2 separate regions of the Homo sapiens genome follow, and region 2 is linked to region 1. A link means that fine-mapping ties the variant in region 1 to the expression of a gene that starts in the linked region. Tissue or cell type: whole blood. Region 1 holds a variant in brackets; the other region holds the start of a gene. All regions are shown on one strand. Distances are from middle to middle.

The links. PIP is the estimated chance that this variant, and not a neighbour inherited with it, causes the effect.
Region 2: it holds the start of SLC25A29, and the variant in region 1 is fine-mapped to the expression of SLC25A29 in whole blood (INTERVAL, PIP above 0.99).

Annotation. Positions count from the first base shown.
Region 1 is chr14:100,628,688-100,631,439 of GRCh38, reverse strand. No RefSeq gene overlaps it. Among named protein-coding and RNA genes, the nearest start is that of LINC00523, 27 kb to the left of the region's middle. The variant C/T (reference allele first, on the strand shown) is at 1,449.
Region 2 is chr14:100,305,481-100,308,102 of GRCh38, reverse strand. It overlaps SLC25A29 (solute carrier family 25 member 29), which reads left to right and starts at 1,659. Exons shown (of 4, transcript NM_001039355.3): 1 at 1,659-1,904. The coding sequence starts at 1,871. It overlaps MIR345 (microRNA 345), which reads right to left and starts at 244; the gene lies at 147-244. RefSeq lists enhancers at 679-848, 879-948, 2,157-2,622 and silencers at 1,039-1,108, 1,199-1,668, 1,729-1,828.

The sequences.
Region 1 (2,752 bases):
GCCTTTTTTACTTTATTTTATTTTATTTTATCACGGTCTTTCTCTGTCACCTAGGCTGGAGTGCAGTGGTGCAATTATGACTCACTGCAGCCTCTAACTCCTGGGCTCAAAGCAATTCTCCTGCCTCAGCCTCCAGAGTAGCTGGGACTCCTGGTGCACACCGCCATGCCCAGGTAATTTTTAAATTTTTTTGTAGAGACAACGTCTCACTACGTTGCCAAGGCTGATCTTGAACTCCTGGCCTCAAGTGGTCCTCCCACCTTGGCCTCCCAAAGCACTCGTGATTACATGCGTGAGCCATTGCACCCAGCAGTTGAAAATATTTGGTGTTACGAATTTGCCAGTGGTAATACTGCTTTGTTTATACCCTGTAAGTATTATTCTCAAGATCATTATTTTTTAAGTATTCTGCAGCTGAAATGCTCACATCTTCTTTGACTCAAGATGTATGTAGTGGAGTGTTAGAGTTTTTTTCATTGTCTTTGGTTTTGTTATTTCTATTGTTGTGTCGTGGGTAGCCAATGAGGCACTGGCAGCATCTGCATGTTGATATTAATTAAGGTCTACTCTGTGGCCTTATACGTGGTCAATGATCATAAATACCCCATCAGGACAGAAAAGGAAGGATAAGCTCCTGTTACAGGGTGCAGACTTTGAGAGGTATCCAAGTTCATAAGGCCGCCTCAGTAGGGCTTGGGGGAGAATTCCAGACTCCTGGGGTCCTCTGAAAGTCGCCCCTGGAAGGTCCTGGTCTTCTGGGTTGCATTTCCTCACCTATGATCAGGCCTCCTGGTGGCCACTTCCATTTTCTTTGTCTTCAGCTGCTTTTCCATTTTGCCCCAGTTCAGTGTTTCTCAAAGTGAGGCCCATAGACCCCTGAGCTGGAATCACCTGGGGTGCCTGCCCACCAACAGCCTTTGGAATTTGGGTCTCAGAGAGTGGGGCCAGGGGTCTGCATATTTCACAAGTGTCTGGTCTGGGGACCCGCTCCAGTTGCTCACAAGGCTCTGGGTAAATCCGATGTTTGCTGCGTTGGCAGTGCATTGGGTGTGGCTAAAGCACCAAGGCCCAGCTCTTTTAGGGCTCAAGGGCAGAGGCCGCAACAAGCCAGGAGCTCCCAGGATGTGGCCGAAGGTCTTGGGAGAGCTGTCGAACCTGACTGTCAGGTCATATGCCCCACACCCTCAGTGATATGTGGGGAGGGGGAACTGTGATGCAGGGTGGGAGATGCTGACCCTGGGGAAGAGCGCGCAGTGAGGGCTGGGGAAGGGGTGTCCTGGTGTCTGTCCAAGTCCTGGTGTCTGATATGACCCTTTCATCGAGCAGGAGGCATCCGTTGCCTGCTATCGGGAGTAGAAGTCCGGGTACCCCTGGATCTTGGTCTCCGAGTCGCCAAGGAATACACGCAGTGAGGCACTGGCTGGAACAAGGCTTTATTCACATGGAGA[C/T]GGGACAGGGCAGGATCAGCTGCAGCGGCGGGCACTGGTCCCCACGGCCAGCGCATCCCTCCCGGCAGCTGAGGCAGGGCCATTGGCCAGCAGTCATCTCTCTTGTGTGGCAGCAGGAGAGCCCTACCCTGCTCCCCGCAGTGGGGGGTTGGCCAGATGCCGTATGACGCACAGGTTTAAGGAGGGCAAAGGAAGGCACAGAGCCTGAATCAGGGAAAAGTCTTCCCACACACAGAAACAAGCCCCACTTAGGCTGTGAGGGCCTCTTTATCTCGGGGAAGGAAGAGTTCCAGGCCCAGCGCCCATTCTTGTGCTGCTGAGAGGGGCAGAAAGGTGCCTGTCCCTACACCTTTGGCTGCAGAAATGGCAGCAGGTGCCCCAGGGCCCGGCCGGTGGGAGGGTTGCTATTCATCTTTGCAGTTATTATCAGACCCTAGAGGGCCGTGATTGCAGACACCCACTGCCTCCAAGTGACTGGCCAACCCCTGCAGAACATCTGTGGGACCGTGGGGCTGTGGGACCACAGGACCCTGGAGCAGACCCGGCCAGTCGGTGTCCCGGCAGATCCCTTCCATCCTGTGTACCCCGTCCCCAGCCTCAGCGAGCTTCTGCTTCAGTGGCCTCCCCCAGGGGTTCTGCTTCAGCTCCTGAAGCTGTGTTGGCTATGGTCCCAGAGAGCCGGATGGCTGGGCAATTACAGCCTCCCGGGGCAGCACTTTGCCACCAACTGGCCAGTGCAGGAGTGTGAAAGCTCCGGCCGGGTCAGGGCGGGCTGGGGTGCACCTTATGCCCCAGGGCTCCCAGTGGAATCAGGCTGGAGTTGTCCTTGAGGGATGTCCTGCCATCGCTCTTCGCTTGGCCTCCTCTCCTTCCCTGTTCTGCTTCCTGCTCCCTCACCAGTTTCTCCGCGGAGTGCCCCCTTCATAGAGCACTCACCCGTGGGGCTCAGTTCAGGGTTTCCTGGAGAAACTGTCCTAAAACACATGAGACATGAGCTTCCGGATGAAGACCCAATCTCCGTGCAAAGGAGACACCAGGAGGGGCACAGAAGGGAGTAAAGGGGCCAGAGACTGGCGGGCGTCAGGGACTTGGCCTCTGAGGACAGGCTCCAAACTCGAGTGGCCCTCCAGCCAGTGGGGACAATGGCAGATGGGGTAGGGAGAGTAACCCAGGGGCTTTTCCTTGATTGTGTGGTCTGGGACTCAACCTCTGTGCAGGAGCCATGGCCTCTTCTGCTGAGTGTCACTGGCTGACCTGCTTGACGGTGGTCACTTTCACCTTGCTCTTCCTTCCAGGCTGGAAAA
Region 2 (2,622 bases), 320 kb after region 1:
GCCACCTGAGTAGCCCCACAGCCAGCTCCTGCCCTTTTGGGTCTGGGCTTCTCTTGGGGCCCCCATACCACTGCTTTTCTGGCCCATGGGCCACTCTCCCCCATCCGCACACCTGCCTCCCTGAGGCAACCAAGTGGGTCAGAGAGGCTGTCGATATTCAAACCCAGGCCTCCAGACCCCTCGTTCAGGGCCCACCAGCCATCACGAGCCCTGGACTAGGAGTCAGCAGACCTAGGGTTTGGGTCTCTGCTTAACATTCTACTTAGACTCTAAAAGGAAACTAACATGAGCACTGGGGACCCCTGCCCCTAGCACCAGGCTGCACTACTGACAACACCTACCTGTGTGTCCTAGTACCAAATACACAGAACCTTTCGACCTGCACCTCCAGGAGGTAGGTACCCACTGGAATTTGGATAAAAGAACCATGTGACCCTAAACCTGGAAACGTGGCACACGGTGTGGCCTTGCCTGCCTGCAGGCCCTAAAGAAGGAAGCTGGGCCCGGCCTAAGGCTGATCTGACTCCTACAGCGAAGAGAAAGCGCCTGGCCCGTCCCTGCTCCCAGGCTCCAACCTGACAGTCTGGACCTCCAGAGGCGCTGGGGAAGGGCTGGTGGGAAGTCACCGAATGGGACGCTCCACAGGGACCAGGGCAGTCCCTTGCCACTGCGAATGTCAGGGACTCCTGGGGGGCCGAGTCAGACTCGGCTCTCATTCATCCCCGCAGCCCATGGATACCCTGGTGACCCAGAGCCAAGCACCCTCCGACTTCAGCGCCTGAGCGCGGCCCCTACCGAGCCCCTCCGGTCTCGCCCCGTCCGGCCGCCGCTGACGGAGGCGCTGCGATCTGGCCCGACTCCACTCTGCAGCCCAGTCCAGGAACCTCCCTCTCTCCACAACCTTCCGCGGCTCCCGCGACCCGCAGTCCTCGGGAAGGAGCTGTGGCCCGAAGGCCTGCTGCGCCCTTTGCCCATGGCCCCTTTCCCTTTTAAGGTTCCCTGCTCTCCGCCCAAATCCCAGCCTCAGGCTCCGCAGGAAGCGCCCGTGCGCGTCCGACCCCCAGAACCCGGCGGGTTCGGCCAGGAGTCCGGAAGCCCCGGAGGCCACCGCCGCCGCGGGCGCGCAGGCGGGACGGGCAGAGGCTCCCCACGGGCGATTCCCGCTCGCGGAGTTTCGCAACTAGCGGCGTCCCAGTCTGCGGGCCTCGGAACGTCCCGGCGCTCCACGGCCGTTTTCGCGGCAGGGTCCGCACGGCACAGACTAGGGCGCTGAGGTTCTGCGGCGGCGCCGGACTCCGAACCCAGGGTCCGGTTCCCGACCCGGTCCAGACCAGAGCCACCCCGCGTACTCCGGGTGGGGGAGTCCTCGGCTCAACCCCGCCACCCCGCGCGTCCCCTCCCGCCGGACCTGCGCACCCAGCGCGCTCTTTGTCTGAGGCGTCCCCGCGCCCCGCCCGCGCGCCCACCACGTCCCCCGCGCCCCGCCTCCCGCGCACGCCCGGCCAATGAGGCGCGGCGGCGAAGCGCAGTGCCCGGGGTGTTGTCCGCGCCGTGCCCGCCCATTGGCCTCACTCGGCGCCCCCACCCGGGCCCTGCCGGCAGGCACGAGGGGCGGGGCGCGCGGCCCGAGGTGAGGGACCGCGGGCCGGAGGGGATCCAGCGAGTCAGCTGCCGCCGAGGGACCAGCGCGGGTCTAGCTGCTGCCGCCATCCCCACCATCCCTGACCGCGCCTGCCCGGGCTCCGCGCCAGGAGGAGCGGCCAGGCCCAGCCCCGGCACCGCGCGCTCGGGGACCCCGACGGCGCCCAGCCCGGCGAGGGGCCTCAGGGGGAGGACGAGGAGGAAAGGCGGCCTCGCCGGGGACCCGGCCATGGCGCTGGACTTCTTGGCTGGATGCGCGGGGGGTAAGGAGGCGGCGGGCCGGGCCGGGCCGGGGCGAGGCGTCCGGGGAGGGAGGTCGGCCCACCAGCACGCCCTGGCCTCGCGGCTTCCCGCTGGCGGGGGTCGCCGCGTCTGTGAATGGGGACCACAGTTCTCTTGCCTCGGGCGGGTCTCGTGGGCGTAAATTGACTTCAGGCCCGGGCTGTCCGCGAGGGCAGGTGTCTTTATTCTCTCTGGGCACGCTCGGACGGGAGGTCTGGGGCGCCGGGGCAGCACCGTGGCTGAGCGGAGGCCAGGACTGCCGGGAGGATGCCCCACTGCCCCCCGCGCCGAGGTCCCGGGCTCATCTCCTTCCCCTCCCCCATCCCCATCCGTTGCGCACTGGGAGCAGGGTCCCCTCCCCCGGCCGTATATTTCGGGACTGACTCCACCCCGTCCCGCGCAGCCATCCAGCGGGGTTGGGGCTACGGAGCCGACCCCCTACTCGGCTGGCCTTGGAGGGCACTGAACCACTCTGGCGCCGAGTCACGCCTTGGAACGCCGCCCCTTCCTACGCGGTTTTGTGAGCTGTTGGGGGCGGAAGGGGGGTGGTGGGTGGGTCGGGCGAGCCGGTGTGGGGCACCTTCTCCGAGGCGCGGTCGCGGCTCTGGGGTTCCTCCCATGCAGTTGTCCCCGGGAGGGCCCGGGCGGGCGTGCAGTCCAGGCTCTCCCATGCCCCGACCGTGGGCGTCGGGCACGGCA